Linked DNA regions of Homo sapiens. The protein of the gene in region 2 purifies or fractionates together with the protein of the main gene of each other region. This does not show direct contact. Each region holds a gene or a part of one and is shown on either strand. Other genes may lie near its edges.

Evidence for each region.
Region 1: the proteins of WIF1 (region 2) and PNPT1 purify together in Homo sapiens (affinity purification with mass spectrometry; one large-scale study listed by BioGRID and IntAct). This does not show direct contact.
Region 3: the proteins of WIF1 (region 2) and NDUFA12 purify together in Homo sapiens (affinity purification with mass spectrometry; one large-scale study listed by BioGRID and IntAct). This does not show direct contact.
Region 4: the proteins of WIF1 (region 2) and EHD1 purify together in Homo sapiens (affinity purification with mass spectrometry; one large-scale study listed by BioGRID and IntAct). This does not show direct contact.
Region 5: the proteins of WIF1 (region 2) and NT5C2 purify together in Homo sapiens (affinity purification with mass spectrometry; one large-scale study listed by BioGRID and IntAct). This does not show direct contact.
Region 6: the proteins of WIF1 (region 2) and UBXN7 purify together in Homo sapiens (affinity purification with mass spectrometry; one large-scale study listed by BioGRID and IntAct). This does not show direct contact.
Region 7: the proteins of WIF1 (region 2) and PPP1R8 purify together in Homo sapiens (affinity purification with mass spectrometry; one large-scale study listed by BioGRID and IntAct). This does not show direct contact.

The regions. Positions count from the first base shown.
Region 1 is NC_000002.12:55,673,345-55,676,844, forward strand, and holds part of PNPT1 (polyribonucleotide nucleotidyltransferase 1, mitochondrial precursor), read right to left. Parts: intron 1-3,500. UniProt on the Homo sapiens protein: RNA-binding protein implicated in numerous RNA metabolic processes. Catalyzes the phosphorolysis of single-stranded polyribonucleotides processively in the 3'-to-5' direction. Mitochondrial intermembrane factor with RNA-processing exoribonulease activity.
Region 2 is NC_000012.12:65,079,806-65,083,305, forward strand, and holds part of WIF1 (wnt inhibitory factor 1 precursor), read right to left. Parts: intron 1-3,500. UniProt on the Homo sapiens protein: Binds to WNT proteins and inhibits their activities. May be involved in mesoderm segmentation.
Region 3 is NC_000012.12:94,993,698-94,997,197, forward strand, and holds part of NDUFA12 (NADH dehydrogenase [ubiquinone] 1 alpha subcomplex subunit 12), read right to left. Parts: intron 561-3,500; coding exon 473-560; intron 1-472. UniProt on the Homo sapiens protein: Accessory subunit of the mitochondrial membrane respiratory chain NADH dehydrogenase (Complex I), that is believed not to be involved in catalysis. Complex I functions in the transfer of electrons from NADH to the respiratory chain.
Region 4 is NC_000011.10:64,868,622-64,872,121, forward strand, and holds part of EHD1 (EH domain-containing protein 1), read right to left. Parts: intron 1-3,500. UniProt on the Homo sapiens protein: ATP- and membrane-binding protein that controls membrane reorganization/tubulation upon ATP hydrolysis. In vitro causes vesiculation of endocytic membranes. Acts in early endocytic membrane fusion and membrane trafficking of recycling endosomes.
Region 5 is NC_000010.11:103,186,773-103,190,272, reverse strand, and holds part of NT5C2 (cytosolic purine 5'-nucleotidase), read left to right. Parts: intron 1-3,026; exon of another isoform or gene 3,027-3,148; intron 3,149-3,500. UniProt on the Homo sapiens protein: Broad specificity cytosolic 5'-nucleotidase that catalyzes the dephosphorylation of 6-hydroxypurine nucleoside 5'-monophosphates.
Region 6 is NC_000003.12:196,366,428-196,369,927, forward strand, and holds part of UBXN7 (UBX domain-containing protein 7), read right to left. Parts: intron 3,085-3,500; coding exon 2,994-3,084; intron 1,729-2,993; coding exon 1,601-1,728; intron 1-1,600. UniProt on the Homo sapiens protein: Ubiquitin-binding adapter that links a subset of NEDD8-associated cullin ring ligases (CRLs) to the segregase VCP/p97, to regulate turnover of their ubiquitination substrates.
Region 7 is NC_000001.11:27,844,282-27,847,781, reverse strand, and holds part of PPP1R8 (nuclear inhibitor of protein phosphatase 1), read right to left. Parts: intron 755-3,500; coding exon 690-754; intron 1-689. UniProt on the Homo sapiens protein: Inhibitor subunit of the major nuclear protein phosphatase-1 (PP-1). It has RNA-binding activity but does not cleave RNA and may target PP-1 to RNA-associated substrates. May also be involved in pre-mRNA splicing.

The DNA.
Region 1 (3,500 bases), on a different chromosome or scaffold from region 2:
AAAAAGAAATCATGCACATATTTTAAAAATAAGTTTTATTGAGCTATAAGTCACATAAAATAAAAATTAAATCTTTTAAAGTATACAAGTGCATTTGTTTTTAATACTTTTTTTTTTTTTTTGAGACAGAGTCTCACTCTGTTGACCACGCTGGAGTGCAGTGGCGCAATCTCGGCTCACTGCCAGCTCTGCCTCCCAGGTTCACACCATTGTCCTGCCTCAGCCTCCCGAGTAGCTGGGACTACAGGCGCCCGCCACCATGCCCAGCTAATTTTTTGTATTTTTAGTAGACATGGGGTTTCACTGTGTTAGCCAGGATGGTCTCAATCTCCTGACCTTGTGATCTGCCTGCCTCAGCCTCCCAAAGTGCTGGGATTAGACGTGAGCCACTGTGCCTGGCATCTTTTTATATTTTTAAAAGGCCATATGTATGTCCTTTTCTGTGAACTGTTTATATTATTTGCCAAAGTGACTTTAGGTGATCTGCCTGCCTTGGCCTTCCAAAGTGCTGGGGATTACAGGCGTGAGCCACTACATCCAGCTAATTTTTGTAGTTTTAGTAGGGACGGGGTTTTGCCATGTTGCCCAGGCTGCTCTCGAACTCCTGACCTCAGGTGATTAACCCGCCTCAGCCTCCTAAAGTGCTGGGATTACAGGCGTGAGCCACCGCTCCTGGCAATACATATTTTAAATAAAATGTAAAAATATGTAACACAATAGGAATCTAATAAATATTTCCTGTTTAACAATTAATTCTCACATTGTCTAATTCTTGCACAGATGGGGAAATCTCTGCAGTGATCCTGTTTCAAGTAAGCCAACTAAAGGACTGAATAATAGAATTTTTTCTATTGCATTAGAAATAGCTAAAGGAAGTTTTCTAAACAGAAATGAAAAAATAAGAGAAGACATCGTGGACTGTTAGAAAGGAAAGAAAATCAGTATGCAAACTAAGAATAAATATAGAGGCTGAGCGTGGTGGCTCACACCTGTAATCCCAGCACTTTGGGAGGCTAAAGTGGGCAGATCACCTGAAGTCAGAGTTCAAGACCAGCCTGGGCAACATAGCGAGGTCCTGTCTCTATAAAAAATGAAAGAATTAGCCAGGCATAGTGGCGTGCACCTGTAGTCCCAGCTACTCAGGAGGCTGAGGCATGAGAATCACTTGAACCCAGGAGGTGGAGGTTGCAGTGAGCTGAGATCACGCCACTGCACTCTAGCCTGGGCGACAGAATGAGGCTCCATCTCAAAAAAATAAATAAATAAATAGAGAAAAAGAGTAAATACAGAGCAATAAGCTTTTCTTTCCCTCTTGAGTTTTCTAAATTATGTTTGACAGTTGAAGCAAAAGCAAAAATTGTAACACTGCCTGATATGGTTCTAACTGTAGAAGAAAATGATAACAATTGCATTCCAAATGGGAGAGGGTAAAGGGAAATAAGGTTTCCATATTTTGCACCAGGCCTGAAGAAATTTCTTCTGATACCATGATACTGAGATGGCTATATTCTTTTTCTCATCTGTATTTCCAAGATATCCTCTCACTTTGACAGGATTAATCCGGAGATTTTTAAAAATTCATTTAATGGGTATAAATTATATCTCAATAAATTGCTTTTAAAAATAAAATATGTGGCCAGGTGTGATGGCTCATGCCTATTGTCCCAGTACTTTGGGAGGCCAAGGTGGGAGGATTATTTGAGGCCAGGAGTCTGGGACCAGGCTGAGCAACACAGCAAGGTCCTGTCCCTAAAAAGATAACAACTAGAAGATAAAAAACTCAGCTGCGGTGGTGTGCCTGTAATCCTAGCTATTCTAGAGGCTGAGGCAGGATGATCACTTGAGGCCAGCAGTTTCAGGCTAGGCTACAGTGAGCCATGATCACGCCACTATACTCATACTCTAGTCTGGACAATAGAGTTGAGGAGAGTTGAGAACCAGATTCAAAAAAAAAAAAAATATGGCTGGGCATGGGGCTCATGCTTGTAATTCCAGTGCTATGGGAGGCCAGGACAGGAGGATTGCTTGAGGCCAGGAGATTAGCCTGGGCAATATAATGAGATGCTATATCTAATAAAAATAATGGTAAAATTTAAAAAATAGAATATGACAAAGAAAAATGGATACCCCCCAAATAAACTTTGTTTTCACTCATTAAACTTTAATGCAATTCCTTTTAAAAAATACTTTCTAAGAAAATTTCTTTAGCCAGGTGTGGTGACATGTGCCTGGATTCCCAGCTACTCAGGAGGCTGAGGACATAGGATCGTTTGAACCCCACAGTTTGAGGCTGTAGTGATGTATAATCACACCATTGCATTCCAGCTTGGCAACAGAGTGAGACTGTCTTAAAAAAAGAAAGAAAGAAAGAAAGAACACTCCTTACAGTTGAGTCTACAGAGCTGTGCTGTCCAATATGGTAACTACTAGCCACATATGGCTACTTGCATTTAAATTATTTAAAATTAGACAAAATTAAAATTTTGGTTCCTCAGTTACTCTAGCCACATCTGAAGTGCTAAGTAGCCACATGATCAGATATAAAACATTCCCTTCACTGCAGAGTTCTACTGGACAACACTGCTATCGATGCTAAAAATTTAAACATAAAAGCTTGTCAAAATGATTGCTATAGGCCCAGCGTGGTGGCTCACGCTTGTAATCCCAGCACTTTGGGAAGCTGAGGCAGGTGGATCACCTGAGTTCAGGAGTTTGAGACCAGCCTGGCCAACATGTTGAAACCCCATCTCTACTAAAAATAAAAAATTAGCCAGGTGTGGTGGTGCACGCCTGTAGTCCCAGCTACTTGGGAGGCCGAGTCAAGAGAATCGCTTGAACCTGGAGATGGAGGTTGCAGTGAGCCGAGATTGCGCCACTGCACTCCAGCCTGGGCGACAGAGTAAGACTCCATCTCAACCAAAAAAAAAAAAAAAAAAAAAAGAAGATTGCTATAAACTGTCAACCATTTTAGCAGTTGAAGATGAAGGAGTTTTGAGATTAGCTGAAGCTATAAATTCTAGACCCAAAATATCTTCTAAAAACATGTTACTGGTATACTTTTTCCTGACCGATATCTTCTCACACACAGAAATATTAGTGATATTAAATATACCAGTTGAAAACAAACATCTAAATGGTACGGTTCAGAATGTTGGTGTTGAAGTAACCCAGCAGCTGACAGCATGGAGTAACTATTCTTGCCGTGTAAGATTATACTCTAAAGATCTGGATGACTGCCCGGGAGTGGTGGCCCATGCCTGCAATCCCGGCACTTCGGGAGGCTGAGGCAGGTGGATCACCTGAGGTCAGGAGTTTGAGACCAGCCTGACAAACATGGTGAAACCCTGTCTCTACTAAAAACACAAAAATTAGCCAGGTGTGGTGGTGCACGCCTGTAATCCCAGCTACTCAGGAGGCTGAGTCAAGAGAATCACTTGAACCTGGGAGGCGGAAGTTGCACTGAGCCAAGATCATGCCACTGTACTCCAGCCTCGGCAACA
Region 2 (3,500 bases):
AATTAATTAACTTTTTGCATTCTATCCATTCAGTTCCACACCCAGAACTACATTAATTCAATGTAATTAATTATATTAATTTTTGCATTCTATCTATTAATTAAAGAAATTACATTAACATGGGCTAGAAGGAGGTTGCAAAAGAATATGACCCTACAAGCAATATAAAATTTATTTTACAACATGAAAGATATTAAGAGATACATGGTAGACATTCAAACAATTTGCTGCTTTAAATCACAGTATCACATGCAGCAGGCATTAAGGACTTCACATGAGGATAATAATGCCAAGGGGTAGTCTCAGATGCTGTGGGAACTTGTCCATACTTGAAGTTAATTGAGAAACACTTCCTGGTTTCACTAAGCCAAAAGGATAACCTTCATGGACCAAATTCCCACTGCATCCCCTCCTGTGAGTTGTGGTCAAGTTTCCAAAAGACCACTGTGAACAGTTCCCTAGGTGGGTAACAACATTGTTTAAGTTAATTTATAAAATTGATTCACTAGGATGGCCCTGAGAATAAAGGGTCATAAGGCAGGTAATTCTTACCCTGTTTAAGGGAAGGCAGAGGTTTATAAGAAGTCTGATGAAAGGAGTGTTGTCAGGAAAGGTAATTCAATTTGGAATGAATTCCTTTGAAAGAGAGAACAGTATTTCTGTCCCTGCAGGAAAACCAATGACTATTAAAAGTGGATTTGTTTTCATGAATCCAGGTGTTTTAAATGACTTCTACCACCTGCACTTCCCTCTACATTTTACTAGATAATATGTATCATTTAACATACTGTTCTAAAACGTATTTTATTTGGCACTATGAAAGGATTTAGTGATAGATGCCCTTATAATGAATAACATTTGAATTATTTCTATTACTAAGTACAGTAACAACAATCACACAATAAACTTGGGTGTAATGCACACCATGTGCCAAAACATTCTAAAGACTTAACAGTACATATAATGATGGAAAAGAAATGAATGGATAGAATGCAAAAAACTTTGAAATTAAAAGGTCAAATACCATATAAGTTATCATTTGCTACCCCATAATTATATCTTTGAGCTTTGTCACATTATAAATTAAATATACCTTTCTATGTGTGATATATTTAAAAATTACATTTGTAAAACTACAATAATTTTAACAAATATAATTTAATTTAAAAAATAAACTTTTAGTTAATAAGAAAAACTAGACACCAAGATTAAAACAATGATTGTGTAGAATTGATGGTGATTTTTTTTCTTTTCTCTCTTTTTCAGATTTTCTATATGTGAATTTATATCTTTTCATGAAATAAGTGCATTTATGTATTTTTTTTAAAAAGCATTAATCATGTACCCTCCTTTCAGTTCCGTGGCTGATGATTCTTTTTCCATAATTCTCTGATCATAGATAAAATATTCTTCTTGAACATCTATTTAACGTGGCTGTGTTTAAACAACAATTTTATTTAAATCTCTTCCATGTCTCCTTGAAAGTGCAGCAATTTGCATAAAATAGCTTCTGAACGCCTCTTCCAAAAAGTTTTGATGATGTTCAAAGAATATGGAACTGAAAAAATTCCATTCGGAGGCCAGAAACATAACTTCACAGAGCCTTCAGGTATGACCACAGAAGGTAGACTGAGAAGCATGGAATCTGTTATACTTAGCATCAGAGAGTTGATAATGAGCAGTGGCACGACTGCTTCACATGATGCAGCTAGGCTTAATAGATTTCTCTGGACACCCAATACTCTGATCTAATCAATAACACACTTTACACAAAAGTGTCCCTTTTATTTCTTTGAGAATCAGTAAACATTTGTCTTATTCTAATAAGACTGTTCATAAGGCAGGAACTGGTTTCTTTCTTGGATCTTATCAGCAAAAGGCAGTTACCAGAGTAAATCGTTTTCTTTCTTGCTGAAGATGATAACTAATGGTGCATGAATCTCTGAAACATGTAATTTCCTGGATACTTGGTACATTTCTTTAAAAAAGATTTTGTCTGTGGTTTTCATTGCCTCTTTAAAAATTCTAACTTCACACTGGGAAGTTTTAAGATAAAAAAAAAAGAAAAGAAAAAAGAAAAATTTTAACTTGAAAACCATTTAGAAATTGACTAACCTTTTATCTCTGATGTTGACACTAACTTCTTTCAAAGTTTTACTTTGCCATTGTAAAGAAATCTAAAACCATCAATACTGTGAAAATATTTCCACAAATATAGTATTATGAACTACAGAGTAAATATATCCTTCATTTAACCTAAGGGCTTAAATTAAAAGCCACAAGAAATGGCTGATGAACAATATATTTACGCCATACTCTAACTTCTAGACAGGACTTTCTGTTTTTACTTTATTTATAATAAATATTCTTAGACCCAAATCTCCCCATTGGAAAAACTTATTTGAGAGCAAATAAAATCTAAATTCTATGCCAAAGAGAACAGAGAACTAGCTTTAAAGTTTGGGAACAATTTCCACAAATTGTAGATTTATTATTTAGATAAAAGGAACTCAGAGCATGAACAGTAATAGAGAAATGGTATACTGGAGAGTCTAAAACCTCTATTAGGAAAAAGTACATTTTGTTCCATTAAATGACACTAGAGGAAACTCAGGTAAAGGCAAACAGAGTAATTATTTGGGAAACACATGAAAAGGTTGCTTTGTATTCAAACAAAGAATGGGTCTATTCAGGAGAATAATTCACTGGCATGGTTTGCCATGCAGTAAATTTTCTTTTCATGGAGAAGCATAAAAGACACCCAAATATTATCAAGAGAGGAGTGCTGGAGGTCATTTAACTTGCTTCCAATGGACTTGGCTGAATATTAGGATTGTTCCTTCCAGATGAGATGAAGACATCATTTAAACAGCAAAATGGGACAACTCATAAGGCCTTTGTTCTGGCACTCCTTTTAGGGTAGACATAGAGAAAGGAAGCAGAGAATTGCATTAACCCCTTATTGAGAGGAATGAAGAGAATCCAGTATTTCTCTTCTACCTTTGAAGTTCTGTGTTTATGGTGTGTACTTAATCTAATAAGCACAATAATTGTAGGAGCCTCTGAGTTAAGAATCAAAGATCTTTCAGAAAACCAAGGACTTCAAACCTCTTTTAACCCATATATCATGATGCTGACCTAAGTGCTCATGGAAGAACATTAAAACAATAAAGTTATCATCTTTGTTCTAAAGAAGGTTTCAGGCATTTATAGATACAAAACACACAAAAGCTGTAAGGTTTGAAAATTTTCAAATAATTTTTGTTGAATGTTTATTATACTGCAGTTACTGTTTATTTAATTCTCACAACAGCCTATTATTGTTACAGCATACAAGTGAATTCAGATTCGCAGATTCACTGTGAATTCAGATTAGCAGATTCACTGGGTATGAGAGGTACTAAAGAGATGTAAAATAGATCGTACGCTGTAAGTGAAGGGCCAGAAAAAATCTAAAATAAGCAAGAAAGGAAAATAGTTCAATGTTAAAGACCCAAACA
Region 3 (3,500 bases), about 30 Mb from region 2:
GCCGAGGTGGATGGATCACCTGAGGTCAGGAGTTCGAGACCAGCCTGGCCAACACAGTGAAAACCTGTCTGTACTAAAAATACAAAATTAGCCAGGCGTGGTGGCTCACACCTGTAGTCCCAGCTACTCGGGAGGCTAAGACAGGAGAATCGCTTGAACCTAGGAGGTGGAGGTTGCAGTGAGCCAAGTTTGTACCACTGCACTCCAGCCTGGGCGACAGAATGAGACTCTGTCTCAAAAAAGAAACAAACAAACAAATTTAAAAACAAAACAAAAATTATCCGGGTGAGATGGCATGGGCCTGTAGTCCCAGCTACTAGGGAGGCTGATGTGGGAGGATCACTTGAGCCTGGGAGGTCAAAGCTGACATGAGTCATGATCATGTCACTGCACTCCAGCCTGGGTGACAGAGTGAGACCCTGTCTCAAAAAAGAAAAAAAAGAAAGACAAATAAAATGTTGTCTTAGCTTACCATTCAGGAGGCACCATGCTTCCATCCACATCCCAGAATGTGTTTTTGCCATTCATTTCAGTAGTATATACAACCCATCGGTGACGGCCTGGGTGGGAAGATGAACATTTAAAAAGAAAAACTTTTTTTTTTAAAGCATAGATGCATAATATCAAAGAAGACAACCTTTTTATTAAGAAAAGACTTTTTGTGATCTTATATAAGAGAGCTATTGGAGGAATAACACCCTGGGTGAATTCGTGAAGGTAAGCTCCAGGAGGTGTGTGGCAAACTTTAAGCAGCAACCCGCAGCAAGGACTGAGATGATTCACTGCTGTGGGTGGGGCTCAGGCCTTTCCCACAGGGGAGAATCCTTGCTTCCCTGCCAGCTCCCCACAGAGGGAGTAGCAGACAGGATAGGAAAGTGTGTTCCCAGATGTACAGGGTATTCAGAAAAGAAGGTGTTCCTCTTGAGACTGGGGAAAAAACACATTTGTAGCAATCATACTTGAATTCTATGTCTCCACATAAGTATTTTTTTAAAACCACCCTAGATCCTTTTGGAAATTTGTGAATTATATACAATAAGCAAACATTAGAAATGATGGTTAGGTACATAGGACAGCTCATGTCATCAAAATAATATGGCTGCACTCCTCATTTAGGAAATTTCTGTGCACTAGTTGAGGGGCCTAACCACTACTTATTTACACAATTGGGTCCTTAAACTGAGCAAAGACTTGGGCTTTGTCACTTATTATCAGTGGTTATTAGGCAAATTTTATGAGCCTCAGTTTCTTTATCTAGTAAAAGTGGATGACTATACCTACATCTTAGAGTTGCTGTGAAAATTAAACATCACATACATTCACCTAGTTCAGCATCAGCCATATAAGCACATAATAAGTATTAATTCCTTCTACCCCTTCCTTACTGCTCTTACCTGCCAATAGGGAACACTGAATCCATTCATTCCTATGATGGACTTTAAACCAATAAGTAAAAGGTAATCTGCATTTCATTTACAGGGTTTTCCCAGGTAAACATATAATCAACAAAAATTGACTAACGGTACTTAAACATGACCTCATCTCTTTTTAAAAATACAGATTTCAATCAACATTTACTGCTTCATTTAGAGAAATAAATCTTAAGAATAGCTAACTAAAAGTAAACTATAATCCAGTGAGGCAGGGGAATGTGCAGGCAGATGGAGGAGACCTTGGGAAAGGTTTCATAAGTCAAGCCCTGACAATACAGTTAGGCTATAATGATGGAAGTGGGCCCTAACAATCTCTCTCTCTCTCTGTCTGTCTCTCTCTCTGTATTTCTTGAAATGTTAAATGCCTATTCTCAGACTCAGAAATTCAACTTTATTTATTTATTTATTTATTTATTGGAGACGGAGTCTCGCTCTGTCGCCTAGGCTGGAGTGCAATGGCGCGGCCTCGGCTCACTGCCTGCAACCTCCCCTTCCTGGGTTCAAGCGATTCTCCTGCCTCAGCCTCCCGAGTAGCTGGGACCATAGGCATGTGCCACCATGCCTGGCTAATTTTTGTATTTTTAGTAGAGATCAGGCCAGAAATTTATTTAAACACATGAATGTAGTTACAAGCAGGTTTACAGTAGCATCATTCCTAATAGCAAAAAGTCAAAAGCAATCTATGTGTCTATCGATAGTAACAGGATTGAAGAAATAATGGTTCTTCCATACACTGGAATGTTGTGTTGCTATTTTTAAAAATGCTGTGCATTTTTTTTTTTTAATAAACACAACTGGCTGGGCACGGTGGCTCACTTCTTAATCCCAGGACTCTGGAAGGCTGAGGCAGGGGGATCACTTGAGCTCAGGAGTTCGAGACCATCCTGGGCAACATAGTGAAACCTTGTCCCTACAAAAAATACAAAAATTAGCTGGGCATGGTGGCACATGCCTGTAGTCCCAGCTACTCTCAAGGCTGAGGTGAGAGGATCACTTGAGCACGGGAGGCAGAGGTTGCAGTGAGCCGAGATCACACCACTGCATTTCAGGTGGGGCAACAGAGAGACCCTGTCTCGAAATAAAAGAAAAGAATTTTAAATATACATAAAGACTAAACTATTGAAAGAGTTGCAAAATTATAAGGGGAGGGAGCTTTCATACACCAAATATATATAAATACATACATATATAGGTACACACACACACACACACACACACACACACACACGAGATGGGGGTCTCTATGTTGCCCAGGCTGGTCTTGAACTGCTGGCCTCAACTGATCCTCCCACCTTAGCCTCCCAAAGCATTGGGATTACAGGCATGAGCCACCATGCCAGGCCCTAATTTTTTTTTAATTAGCAAAAATAAGAATATTTCCAATGCAAGGGAGAACAGAAGAAAGGAGGCTGGCTGCAGTGGCTCACACCTGTAATCCCAGCACTTTGGGAGGCTGAGGCGGGTGGATCACGAGGTCAGGAGTTCAAGACCAGCCTGACCAACATAGAGAAACCCCATCTCTACTAAAAATACAAAAAATTAGCTGGGCATGATGGCGCATGCCTGTAATCCCAGCTACTCAGGAGGCTGAGGCAGGAGAATCACTTGAACCTGGGAGGTGGAGGTTGCAGCGAGCCAAGATCGTGCCATGGCACTCCAGCCTGGGCAACAAGAGCAAAACTCTGTCTCAAAAAAAAAAAAAAAATTAAAGAAAGGAAAGAATGTAATATTATAGTTTGTAACAATACAGTGAGAAGTAGAAAGAATAATTACCCCAGGTTCTGCCATTAATTACATGATTAAGTCTCTTTGGTAAAGATACTTCCTTGGGCCTCAGTTTCTTCATCTATAAAACAATAGTTTTTAGACAATCTCTTAAAATCTATTCTAGGTCTAAAATTCTGTGATTTATGTATTAAAAATATCATAACTAGGTGTGACAGTATGTGCCTGTAATTCCAGCTCCTCAGGAGGCTAAGGCGGGAGGATTGCTTGAGCTCAGGAGTTCAAGACCAGCCCAGGTAAAATAGTGAGACCTCATCACACTCACACATACACACACACACG
Region 4 (3,500 bases), on a different chromosome or scaffold from region 2:
AAGTTAGAGACAAAGGTCAGTGGGCTGCCTGGGACCAGGAGTGACTATGAGGGGCACGGGAACTTTCAGGCGATGGGAATACTCTCTGTCATGGTGGCGGCAGCCCAGGAATGCTTTGTACAGCAGGGCACCTGAGGAGGGTGGACTTCACTACACACAACGTAGACCCCAGCAAATCAGACAGAAGCAACAAAAGAGGGGCGGGAGGGGGCAGAGGAACTCTGGAATCAGGCCCACATTTCCATCCTGAACCTTCTACTCAACAACGAGCTGTGTGACCCAGCAGGTCTCTGACCTCTCAGAGCCTCGGTTCCCAGCTTCTCAGTCTGTAACACGAAGATAGTAGGTTTCCAGCTTGGAGGGCCGCGGGAGGATGGAGTGAGCCTGGCACACTGCGAGCAGGAGTAAATGTTTGCTCTTATTTACTCGCAGGATTTGTATTTTGGGCTTAAGAAGCTCAGATTCTGATGGGTGTGTAGGCAAGGACTTCAAATGCATGAAGAATGCCTCATCCCCCAAATATAAACGGAATGTTTGCAGGCGCTCGGCCAGCTGCTCCCCAGCCCACCGCCAGTGCGCAGCCTGGGGAACAGGTGCTGAGCGCGGGCAGCGCCTGGTACGCCTCCTCTGTGGCAGAGCCTGCACGCCCCCAGCAGAGGCTGAGGCCAAAAGCTGTCTTGGCATCCTGGCCTGCTGGGCCACAGAGGGAGACCACAGCCAGGTGGGGCGAGCAGAGGGTTTTGGGAGGCCTGGAGCTGGGAGCAAAGGAGGGCCTGGAACCCAACGGGAAACCCCGGCTGAGTCAGCACTTCCCCGAGGATACTCCCCAGGATGTTACTCAGATCACCGTCTGGAAAGCCCTGGGCTTTTCAATCTCTTGACTATGAACCAGCTGACACTTGAACACTTAACTGTGCACCAGGCACTAGGGCAAGAGCTTAACATGTAAATTCTGGTAATCTACAATAACTGGAGAGGCTATGGTGTTTCCTGATGGACTGATGCAGCTCCCAGGGACTACAGCAACTCCCTAGAGCCACCCAGCTCCCCAAGTACTAACGTGGGACTTGAACCTTCTGATCTACTTGTGCTATGGATGCTGAATCCAAGAGGGACACAGCACCTGGCCTGGCTCATGGCCTTTGGGCAGCCCCTGGGAGCATTTGATGGTCTTCGGAGCACCCTGGTGAAACCTCAGCCTGGGGGTGCTGCTGGCAGCGGCATCTCCATCTCAGGAGGTGTCGGCAGGAAGTGGGGGCGGCCCACGGCGCAGGCCTGCCTCTGGGCCGGAGGGCTCAGGACACACAGGTGGGAGTGTGGGCAGGGAGGCCCCATCCAACCACTAAGGATCAGGACAGCTCCCAGGCTTAGAGGGAGCCTGCAGACCACCAGAGGGCAAACGAGAGCCCAGGCCACCAGGCTCCCTGGAGACCCCAAGGGATCATTTATGGCTGGGAACAGGGAACACAATACCAGCACTGCTGTTCAAAGCCCCAGACCTCAGGTCCATTTCAGGACTGGAGTCTAACCTTGGGTGGGAGAGAAACAGAGGGTGGCCTCTGTGTGTCTCAGGAGGGACACACATTACTGTGTGTCCACAGTAATGACCCAACAGGGGCAAAGGTCTGTCTGACCCAAGCTCCCGGCACTCCTTCGCCCACAGCCTTCATGCCAAGGCACCCTTCTCAGCTCCGCCGCAGTAGGAGCACAGCCCCTACCTGGGTTCAAATCCTAGCGCCGACACTTGCTGGCCTGCCTGTCATCTTAGGCCAATTACTTAACTTTCCTAAGCCTCTGCTTCCTCCTCTGAAAGGCAGGAGCTTCCTCCTAGATGCAGCTGCTGTGATAACTCAATGGAACTCACTGATGTGGCAGTGGCCAGCAGAAAGTCAGACACAAAGCTGGCCAGGTCTCTGATCTGCTACTGCAAGTAGAAACACTACCCTGCTGATGCTGATACAGCTTTCATGGGGAGATTGAGACACAAAAACTCCCGCTTAGTTCACAGTTGCCTAGTGACCATGGTGGGGAACGAACGAACTGGCCGGGCTGCCCACAGAGGCCCCGCCGGGGGATGACTCGGCATGAGGCACTGCCGGGACCACGCAACTGGTCGGCAGCCCCTGGAGCCAAGGGCACCACCCCTGCCGGACCCAGCTGCCCTTTGGAATGCCCTTATCAGTCACACAGGCAGCACTCAAGAATGAACGCAGCCCCCAGAGGCCACCTTTCTCTGCTGACACAGGAGAACGGTATCTTTAAAGTCACTCAGATTAGCACACAGGCAAAGGCAGCCCAAGAGACCCCAACCCGGCCCCCTTCTCGTCCCTGAGGCAGTCCTCAGGGGTCCCTGACAGAGCCTGGCTGCATCCTGACTGCTTTGGGCCTGCACCAGCCCACCTTATCTTTTCAGACCGTGTTTCCTGCACACATTAGGACCATGGGGAAAGGGGAAAAAAAGTCAGGAGGGGCCAGGCGGGGCCAGACGGGGTGGGAAATGGAAGTAAATGCAATTAGCAACCCCAATGTCCATCCACGGCCTCCACAAGGACATGTTTCCAGGGAACGGGCTGGCAGGCCAGGGGAGGCGTGTTGTGCTGGGGCCCTGGTGCGTGCTCTGCCGGCCCCATCTTTCCGAGAGGGAAACACCTGCTTTCCACGCCACCAGCAAAGGCAGTAGCAGGTGGCCAGCCCTGCCGGGAACGCACTGCTCCACTCCGACCTCCTCCGCTGGACAGGCCACACGGGCCTTTCCATGACTGACGGGCGGGGCCTCCAGGAAACAGAAATCCACTCCTCCTGTGTACACCTAGCGGGGCTCATCCTGGAGTTTACACCCAGCACCTCCAAGAGGTACTGAGCGATGGTCTTTCTCCTGACAATAAAACACCATCATTCAAACCCTAACCAGGTAACTTTTAGTAAAACACATCTAAACCAAGGCCTCTAGGGCTATGGAGGAAAAGAAATGGTCTAGTAAAATCGGTTTGATCTTCTGCTACTTCACAGCAGGAAACCCCTCCTCCAATCAGCGTGATGTGCTTCTCTTTCAGCCACCGGCTCCTTCCTGCCCATAATGGGTAGAGATGACCTTCTGTGGATATAGGGGAGCCTGGCCTCTCAGGGATGCAGAGGGGCCACACTTTGCACCTGGAGGGGAGAGGGAGGCCACACAGGCAGAGCAGGGCAGCACACTGACAGCAGCCTCATGTCCTGCTGGCTTGTTCCTCCAACCTGTTGTCTGCACAGGCAACTCCAGGGCAGGGACCACAAGGCAACACCTACGTCCACCCCTTGCTCCCAATCAAAACGCCATGCTGTGTCTGCAGATCCACTGATATGGAGCATACACTTTGGTGCTTGTCCCAGAGACAGCCAGTGTAGACACCTCTGCCTGCCTCTTTCCTACCAGGGAAAGGAAGCAGAGGGAGTGGGAGGTGGGGAGGGAGCATCTCAGAGGGCAGGGGCCAAGGCAAGCAACACAAGACATACAACCCCAG
Region 5 (3,500 bases), on a different chromosome or scaffold from region 2:
TGGATTCTTTGCAATTAGAGCGGAGTGAATGACCACCTGAGGTCAGGAGTTTGAGACCAGCCTGGCCAACATGGTGAAACCCCATCTCTACTAAAAATACAAAAATTAATCAGGCGTGGTAGCGCATGCCTGTAATCCCAGCTACTTGGGAGGCTGAGGCAGGAGAATCGCTTGAACCCAGGAGGCGGAGGTTGCAGTGAGCTGAGATTGCGCCACGCACTCCAGCCTGGGTGACAAGAGTGAAACTCTGTCTCAAAAAAAAAAAAAAAAAAAAAGAAAGCCACAAAATTAATGCGGCAAACCGGCCAGGTGCGGTGGCTCACGCCTGTAATCCCAGCACTTTGGGAGGTCGAGGCAGGTGGATCACCTGAGGTCAGGAGTTCGAGACCAGCCTGGCCAACATGGTGAAACCCCGTCTCTACTAAAAATATAAAAAATTAGCTGGGCGTGATGGCGCCCACCTGTAGTCCCAGCTACTCAGGAGGCTGAGACACGAGAATCGCTTGAACCTGGGAGGCAGAGGTTGCAGTGAGCCTATATCGTGCCACTGCACTCCAGCTTGGGCGACAGAGCATCTCAAAAAAAAAAAATTCAGTAAACAGTAAAAGAAAAAAGTTAAAAAAATTATGACAGTCTTAATCTTTGTTTTTTTTTTCGTTTTTTTTTTTGAGATGGAGTCTCGCTCTGTCGCCAGGCTGTAGTGCAGTGGTGCGATCTCGGCTCACTGCAGCCTCCGCTTCCTGGGTTCAAGCGATTCTCCTGCCTCAGCCTACCGAGTAGCTAGGACTAAAGGCGTGTGCCACCACGCCCAGCTAATTTTTGTATTTTTAGTAGAGATGGGGTTTCACCATGTTGGCCAGGATGGTCTCAATCTCTTTACCTCATGATCCGTCCGCCTTGGCCTCCCAAAGTGCTGCGATTACAGGCGTGAGCTACCACGCCCGGCCCTTAATTTTAATTGTTAAAATTTGATAAAGAAGGTGGGTAGTAGACATATCAAATGATCATTATATTATTTTCTGTGTGTTTGAAATATTTCACAGTATTTTAAGATGAACCTAAAATAAAACATTAAAGAAACTCCATTAAACTAATGAGCCTATAAAAATATATATCCCACTGGGCATCTGTAATGAAAACATGCTAATACTCAGCAAGCTTACTGATTTTTTTTTTTAAGCCGTTAAATTTCAGGCATCAGATTTCAGTCTTCTCTTTCCAAGCACATAGTACAAGCAGGCTCTTTCATCCCACACTCTTTTTTTTTTTCCGAGACGGAGTCTCACTTTGTTGCCCAGGCTGGCTCGATCTCAGCTCACTGCAACCTCTACCTCCTGGGTTCAAGCAATTCTCCTGCCTCTGCCTCCCGAGTACTACAGGCATGCTGAGAATACAGGCATGTGACACTGTGCCCGGCTAATTTTTGTGTTTTCGGTAGAGATGGGGTTTCACCATGTTGGCCAGGCTGGTTTCAAACTCCTGACCTCAGGTGACCTGCCCACCTCAGCCTCCCGAAGTGCTGGGATTATAGGCATAAGCCACTGCGCCCAGCCCAAATTCGTATGTTATACAGAATTTTCTGATTTATAAATGTGGGCAACTGATCGTAAAAAATTGTAAAAAACACTGTGACCTCTACAGAATCTGGACCCATAAATCTGTTTCTACATCTGGAAGGGAACTTGAGAGTCTTCCACGTTCAATGCCTTCATTTGACAGATGGGGAAAGTGAATCCCAAAATGTTTTGCATTTTTTGTCTTTTATGCAAGAAAGTCTTCCCTACCTTTGATCCGTAAGGCTGTTCATCTCTATATTCTTCTGTAAATTGTATGGTTTTGCTTTTTCACATTTAGGTTTATTGACAGTGCGTATTTTTTTCTGCTTAGTTTATCTTTATTTTTTATTTATTTATTCATTTTTGATTTTTGCACTGTCGCCTGGGCTGGAGTGCAATGGCGTGATCTCTGCTTACTGCAACTTCCACCTCCTGGGTTCAAGTGATTCGTCTGGCTCAGCCTCCCGAGTAGCTGGGATTACAGGCGCCCGCCACCATGCCTGGCTAATTTTTTTGTATTTTTAGTGGAGATGGGGGTTTCGCTATGTTGGCCAGGCTGGTCTCGAACTCCTGACCTCGTGATCCACCTGCCTCGGCCTCCCAAAGCATTGGGATTACAGGCGTGAGCCACCGCGTCCGCCCTATTTTATCTTTAATATGATCAGCTAGTATTTGTGTTACATATTCTTTTTCTACCATTATGTTTGTCATAAAATTATGCTCTATAAATTCATAAGGACAGGACATGCTTTTGTTATGCTCTGATTTTGGGTCAGAATATTGTAGAAAATGAAATTTTTGAATTCATTTTAGTGTAAATATTTTACAGATTTCTGCTCTTCTACATTATTTTGTCTCATTTGCCTTTAAAGATGAGTAGTACATGTATTTGACTATCCTTGAAAAATATTTTGCACACTTTTTATAGCAGTCATATTAGAATCTAGTTAGGCATTTGTGTATCTCTATCTAGTTTGTTTGAGAGCTGCTAAGTAAACCAGCTAGAATAATAGTGTGTAGATTGAAATAGCTCAAACATTCTGTATCAAAATTATAAGAATTTTAAGTTATTTTAATAAGCATTTAACAGTATCATGCTGTGTAAATAAGACCAAGCTGTGGCTTGGAGAGTAAACATTAAAAGTTTTTTTTTTTTTTTTTTTTTAAGATGGATTCTCACTCTGCCCCCCAGGCTGAAGTGCATTGGTGCAGTCTCAGCTCACTGCAACCTCTGCCTCCCGGGTTCAAGCAATTCTCTGCCTTAATCTCCCGAGTAGCTGGGATTACAGGCGCCCACCACTACACCTGGCTAATTTTTTATTTTATTTTATTTTTAGTAGAGATGGAGTTTCTTCATTTTGGCCAAGCTGGTCTTGAACTCCTGACCTTGTAATCTACCCGCCTCAGCCTCCCAAAGTGCTGGGATTACAGATGTGAGCCACTGCAACTGGCCTTTTTTATTTTTTTAAGGTGGAGTCTCTCTGTGTTGCCCAAGCTGGAGTGTAGAGGTGCGCTCTCAGCGTACTGCAACTTCCGCCTGCTGGGTTTAAGCGATTCTCCTGCCTCAGCCTCCCTAGTAGCTGGGATTACAGGTATGCGCCACCATGCCTAGCTAATTTTTGTATTTTTAGTAGAGACAGGTTTTGCCCTGTTGGCCAGGCTGGTCTTGAACTCCTGACCTCAGGTGATCCGCCCACCTCAGCCTCCCAGAGTGCTGGGATTATAGGCGTGAACCACCGCCCCTGGCCTAACATTAGAATCTTTCACAAATCTGGTCAGTAAATGCCTTTTTTTTTTTTTTTTTGAGACGGAGTCTTGCTCTGTCACCCAGGCTGGAGTGCAGTGGCTCCATGTCAGCTCACTGCAGCCTCCATCTCCCGGGTTCAAGCTGTTCCTCTGCCTCAGCCTCCCTAGTGCTGGGATTACAGGCATGTGCCACCACGC
Region 6 (3,500 bases), on a different chromosome or scaffold from region 2:
ATTGACTGAGCCCAGGAGTTCAAGGCTAGCAAGTTTTTTTTTTTTTTAAAGTTCTCTCAAGGCTGCAAAGACTACAGTGAGTTAATATCATGCCACTGCAGTCCAGCCTGGGCAACAGTGTGAGACCACATCTCAAAAAATACAATACAATACAATAAATACAATACAATACAATAAAAATGTTGCTAGGTGTGGTGCTCACACCCAGAATCCCAACATTTTGGGAGGCTGAGGCGGGAGGATTGCTTGAGGCCAGTTTGAGACCAGCCTAGACAACATACGGAGGCCTCCGTCTCTACAAAACTTTAACAGCTTAGCTGGCATGGTGATGCACATCTGTGGTCCCAGCTACTTAGGAGGCTGAGGTGGAAGGATCGCTTGAGCCCAAGAGGTGGAGGCTGTAGCGAGCCATGATCACACCACTGCACTGCAGCCTGAGAAATGGAACAAGATCCTGCCCAAAGAAAAAAACAGGACGGGCGCGTTAGCTCACGCCTGTAATCCCAGCACTTTGGGAGGCCGAGAAGGGCGGATCACTTGAAGTCAGCAGTTTGAAACCAGCCTGCCCAACAAGGCGAAACCCCATCTCTACTAAAACTACAAAAATTAGCCAGATGCAGTGGTGTACGTCTGTAATCCCAGCTACTTGGGAGGCCAAGGCAGGAGAATCGCTTGAACCCAGGAGGCGAAGGTTGCAGTGAGCCAAGATCACACCACTGCCCTCTAGCCCTAGCAACAGAACAAGACTCTGGCTCAAAAAAAGGAAAAAAAAAAAACCAACAAAACAAAACTATTTTTATCCCTACTGCTATCAAAGCCAAACAGCCATGAAAACCAATGTGAGATTGCTGTATCTTTGCAAGTTCAGTCTCTTATTTGCAACCAATCTTGATACCAATTATCAAACATGTCTACCTAGTAATAGTATATTCTAGAAATTAAGTATAGAAGTAAATTCTAGGAGGGCCAGAGAGCCAGGCCCTAAAGCTATATTAACCAATAAAAATGCTCAACTATACCATGACAGTTGTTTCAGCAAAAACAAAAAACACCACTTCCAGCCGGCTGTGGTGGCATGTACCTGTAGTCCTAGCTATTCGGGCAGTTGAGGTGAGAAGGCTGCTTCAGCCCAGGAGTTCTAGGACAGTCTGGGCAAAACAGCAAGATCCCACTCCAAAACAAAAAACAAAACACACAAAAAAACCAACCACTTTCACTGCTATTTAGACCTGGATATCAGAAGCCCTCCCAGAGCTGCCCCTCAGGAAGTAGACACCTTTACCACTAGGCTTGCCAGGTCAGTCCTCCTGCCCAACCTATTCACATTGCTTCCTTCTAAATCCAGATCCTGGGGCATCTGCCTGCACTCTAGCTGCAAGACAGACTGGCAGGAGTATGAGTATCATGATTTCACCAAGAAGATGGAACTCTCATGTGGGAAATTATCAAAATATAAGGAGGATATCTAAGATGCTATAGCCACAGTGATAGTTGTCCACTAGTTAGATTATCTTTACCATCTTAACATCGAACATTTTATATAAGATGCTTATGACCAATTACATTTATTTTCCCATCACCACCTCCTAATTATACTTACTGAACGGGCACATTTTTTGGGGGGACTGCTAGAAAGTCCATCCAGTTGTCCATGTTCACCCAGAAATCCCGTCACTTGGTCCAAGAAAGAAGATACATCTAACTGGTGCCATTCTACTAGCTTCTGACCTAAGGATTAAAAACCAAGATCTATAAATAAATATAATATCTAGAATCCTTCTGAACATTCTCCAGGATCTATAAATATAATACCTAGAATCCTTCTGAACACTCTCATTAAGTATCTCTTTCAGCATATGCATAGATTAAAAACCTGGATCTATAAAGGTAATATCTAGAATCTTTCTGAACATTCTTATTAAGTATCTCTTTCAGCATATGCATAGATTAAAAACCAGGATCTATAAAGGTAATATCTAGAATCTTTCTGAACATTCTCATTATCTCTTTCAGCATATGCATACATTAAAAACCAGGATCTGTAAATATAATATCTAGGATCTTTCTGAACATTCTCATTAAGTATCTCTTTCAGCACATGCATAAAGTGTACTGTAAAGACATATCCTCTCCACCAGCTTATGCTACATAGTGTCTTCATAACCTAGAAGTCACATCAATTATACTCACCTAACAGATTCCCACCCGTAATGATAGGGCAACTATCTTATCTGCTGCTATCACTTACTGCCATTTAGGAAGAAGAGATTCAGACAAAGCAATATCTATATAAAACACCATCAATTAATAAAACCAGCTCCACCCTCTGCTTCTCAGGTGGGATTACAACTAGTATCTGGGCAATCTTAATATTTTAATGATAAAAAAAACTTTTGTCTTGTTTTGTTTTTTTGAGATGGAGTCTCACTCTGTTGCCCAGGCTGGAGTGCAGTGGCGCGATCTCGGCTCACTGCAACCTCCACCTCCCGGGTTCAGGCCATTCTCCTGCCTCAGCCTCCCAAGCAGCTGGGACTACAGGTGCCCGCCACCATGCCCGGCTAATTTTTTTTGTATTTTTAGTAGAGATGGGGTTTCACCGTGTTAGCCAGGATGGTCTGGATCGCCTGACCTCATGATCCGCCCACCTCGGCCTCCCAAAGTGCTGGGATTACAGGCATGAGCCACCACGCCCAGCTGGTAAAAAAACTTTTAAAAAATCCCTTAAAAAAGGTAAGATGAACATATCAGTTATTCTTCAAAAGAACAGAACTGCACAAACATAAAATACTACCATCTCCCAATGTTGCCAGAAAAAGATGTCCTAAATACATACATCAATAGATGTTTAAATAATTATAAAGGGAAAAAAACGAAACCTTCACCTAAATTACTGCAATTCTGAAAACAGATCCAGTCAAATATTAAAGATCAATCATTTAGGTAACTGAAAGACAAGTAATAGGTTAAAAGCTGCGTGCTGATATAAATCTTACCTGTCCGTGGGTCCAATATGGAAACATAGGGGAAATCCCCTAACTTATAAAACTGTATGTATCTCTGACCTTCCTCACTGTCATGATAAACCTGTTAAATCATTGATATAAAAAAAAAAGTCAGCCTCTAAGAAAAGAACCAACTATAACCTTCTTATACACCAACATCAATTAGCTCTCCAAATATACCTCCGGCCTATGTATTAAGATCTCACTCCTACACTAAAAAGAAAATAAATCTGGTTTGAACTCCTTCAACTTCCCACTTCCAGCACTCTCTGGAAATTTACCATAAACATATTGACCCATTCCTCCTCCTTTCCCAGTTCAGATGAGGTATTATTCTTCCTGCTCAAGTTATCTGTCAACTATGTCATTCATAACTCTCAACCATATACATCTTAATAAATCACAATATATTAAGATTATGGGCCAGGCATGGTGGCTCACGCCTGTAATCCCAGCACTTTAGGAGGCCGAGGCGAGTGGATCACAAGGTCAGGAGAT
Region 7 (3,500 bases), on a different chromosome or scaffold from region 2:
TAAAATTAAGCACTCACTCAACAGCACATAAAGAGCAGGTTATTTTTTTTTTGAGATGGAGTCTCGCTCTGTCACCAGGCTGGAGTGCAGTGGCACCATCTCAGCTCACTGCAACTTCCACCTCCCCGGTTCCAGCGATTCTCCCACCTCAACCTCCCAGTTAGCTGAGACTACAGGAATGCGCCACCACACCCAGCTAATTTTTGTATTTTTAGTAGAGACAGGGTTTCAACATGTTGGCCAGGATGGTCTCAATCTCTTTTTTTTTTTTTTTTGAGACAGAGTCTTGCTCTGTTGCCCAGGCTGGAGTGCAATGGTGCGACCTCAGCTCACTGCAACCTCCGCCTCCCAGGTTCAAGCGATTCTCCTGCCTCAGCCTCCTGAGTAGCTGGGATTACAGAGACCTACCACCACGCCTGGCTAATTTTTGTATTTTTAGTAGAGACAGGGTTTCACCATGTTGGCCAGGTTGGTCTCGAACTCCTGACCTCAGGTGATCTGCCTGCCTTGGCCTCCCAAAGTGCTGGGATTACAAGTGTGAGCCACTGTGCCTGGCCTCGATTTCTTGACCTCTTGATCTGCCTGCCTCAGCCTCCCAAAGTGCTTGGATTACAGGCATAAGCCAACGCGCCTGGCCTAAAGAGCAGGTTTTAAAACACAGACTGTATGGCATTTCATGTGCTTCCTACCTTGACTGGGACCACTGCAGTTTGCACCATGTTCCTGAATCGACCAACTGAGGGATCCACATCCTCTGCAAAAAGAGAAGAGGGCAGGGTTGGGTTGGTACTTTACTGGGAGGAATAAGGGCACAGGAGTCACTGCAAACAAACCATCACAACAACTCATATTAAAATTGTAAAACACAGAGAGTGCTTCCTGGGTGCTGGGCATTGTGCTAAATCCTCACAAAGACCCTGTGATGTAGGTACTACCACAATCAACATTTAGTAGATGAGAAAGCAAACTGAGGCTTGGAGGAGCAAAGGGACTGGCCCAGTTGCTCTGGTGGAGAGTACAGGAGCCAGGACTTGAGTCCAAGTAGTTCAAAACAGGCCTGTGATCTGCACCACTGTGCTGTGCTGCCCTCCCCCAAGTTCTTTCCCATTCTGTATAACTCCCTCTTTTGAGGGGAAAGAAAAGAAGAGTAGACATTATCAGTTCCATATCAGTGACAAAACAATGACATGTCAAGAGGTCACATATCAAATGCCTTGCTAATGCCTGCTTATTAGCAAAAAAACGGATTTTGGTTTCAAAGCCAGGGCTTCAAACTGAACCTGGCCTTTTGACTTGAACGGCCTGAACTGTATATAAGCAAGACTTGCACTAAAGGCTCTGATGCCCCCGTCTACACGGGAAATGAAGAGCAAGATACTGTCCCACCCTTGAATTCACAGTCACAGAGCCAGATAGGCTACAACACAGAGGTGCTTCAAGAGAAGTGCACAACAGTGTTTCTGGAGCACAGAGGGGATGACTGGGCTGGATCACCAAGGATGGTGGAGTTTTCTCACTGAAGGTTGAATGTGAGTGGAAACATGCAGAGGCACCAACTTATGTACCACTACTAGAGAAAACTACTCCAAGCCCCAGTTAACTTAATATAGTGATAGAGAAGGAATCATTTCCCTAATAGATGTTGTCATCTTATTTTCAATGAGGTTGCTTGTTATTGAAAGAAACACTCCTGGCCGGGTGCGGTGGCTCACGCCTGTAATCCCAGCACTTTGGGAGGCCGAGGTGGGCAGATCATGAGGTCAGGAGGTCGAAACCATCCTGGCTAACATGGTGAAACTCCGTCTCTACTAAAAAATACAAAAAATTAGCTGGGTGTGGTGGCGTGCACCTGTAGTCCCAGCTACTCGGGACGCTGAGGCAGGAGAATGGCGTGAACCCGGGAGGTGGAGCTTGCAGTGAGCCGAGATCACGCCACTGCACTCCAGCCTGGGCGACAGAAGGAGACTCCGTCTCAAAAAAAAAAAAAAAAAAAAAAAAGAAAGAAAGAAAGAAAGAAAAACTCCCAGAAATCCCTTTGGAAAACAAAGAATCACTATTTAATTTGAGTAATTATAATTAGCCCCTGGTTTATTTGCTTTAAGTCTGGATTTTTTCACATATTAGGATCCATGCCTTTAAAGAGGACACTCTGGTATTATATTCACCATCAATCTATGCTCAATGAACAAATGGCTTCTATATAGACGAGAAAGGACAAAAATATCCAAGCTGATTAAGAAAGAGACAATGTCTCTAAAAAGGTATCCCAAACTTCTCTCATGGCCCCTCCGGTTTCAGAGCCTGTGCTCTTAACCACTATGCTATACTGCCTGAACACATTTCCCTAAGAAAGCTCGAGGGCACTAATTTTCTTTCTTTCTTTTTTTTTTTTGAAACGGAGTCTTGCTCTGTCGCCCAGGCTGGAGTGCAGTGGCACCATCTCGGCTCACTGCAAGCTCCGCCTCCTGGGTTCACGCCATTCTCCTGCCTCAACCTCCCAAGTAGCTGGGACTACAGGCGCCCGCCACCACACCCAGCTAATTTTTTATATTTTTAGTAGAGATGGGGTTTCACCGTGTTAGCCAGCATGGTCTTGATCTCCTGATCTCGTGATCCGCCCACCTCGGCCTCCCAAAGTGCTGGGATTATAGGGGTGAGCCACCGTGCCCGGCCGAGGGCACTAATTTTCAGTGAGAAAAACAGAGCAGATCAGATCCTCACTCCTGAAAGAGACTTAAGAAATTTGTCAGGCCGGGCATGGTGGCTCACGCCTGTAATCCCAGCACTTTAGGAGGCCGAGGCGGGCGGATCACGAGGTCAGGAGATCGAGACCATCCTGCCTAACACGGTGAAACCCCGTCTCTACTAAAAAAAAAAAAAAAAAAAAAAAAAAAAAATTAGTCGGGCATGGTGGCGGGCGCCTGTAGTCCCAGCTACTCGGGAGGCTGAGGCAGGAAAATGGCGTGAACCCAGGAGGCGGAGGTTGCAGTGAACTGAGATCGTGCCACTGCACTCCAGCACTCCAGCCTGGGTGACAGAGCGAGACTCTGTCTCAAAAAAAAAAAAAAAAAAAAAAAAGAAATTTGTCTAGTCCAGTGGTTCCCAAATTGCTGGCTGTTGTACAAACAGGAGCTCATTAAAAAATATAAATTTTGGGCTGGGCGCGGTAGCTCACGCCTGTAATCCTAGCACTTTGGGAGGTTGAGGGCAGATCACCTGAGGTCAGGAGTTCAAAACCAGCCTGGCCAACATGGTGAAACCCCGTCTCTACTAAAAATACAAAAAAATTAGCCAGGTGTGGTGGCAGAAGCCTATAATTCCAGCTACTTGGGAGGCTGAGGCAGGAGAATCACTTGAACCCAGGAGGCAGAGGTTGCATGAGCCGAGATTGCGTCACTGCACTCCAGCCTGGGTGACAGAACGAGACTCCGTCTCAAAAAATAAATAAATAAAAATAAAAAATAAAAAATAAAAATTTCAGCCAGGCATGGGGACTCATG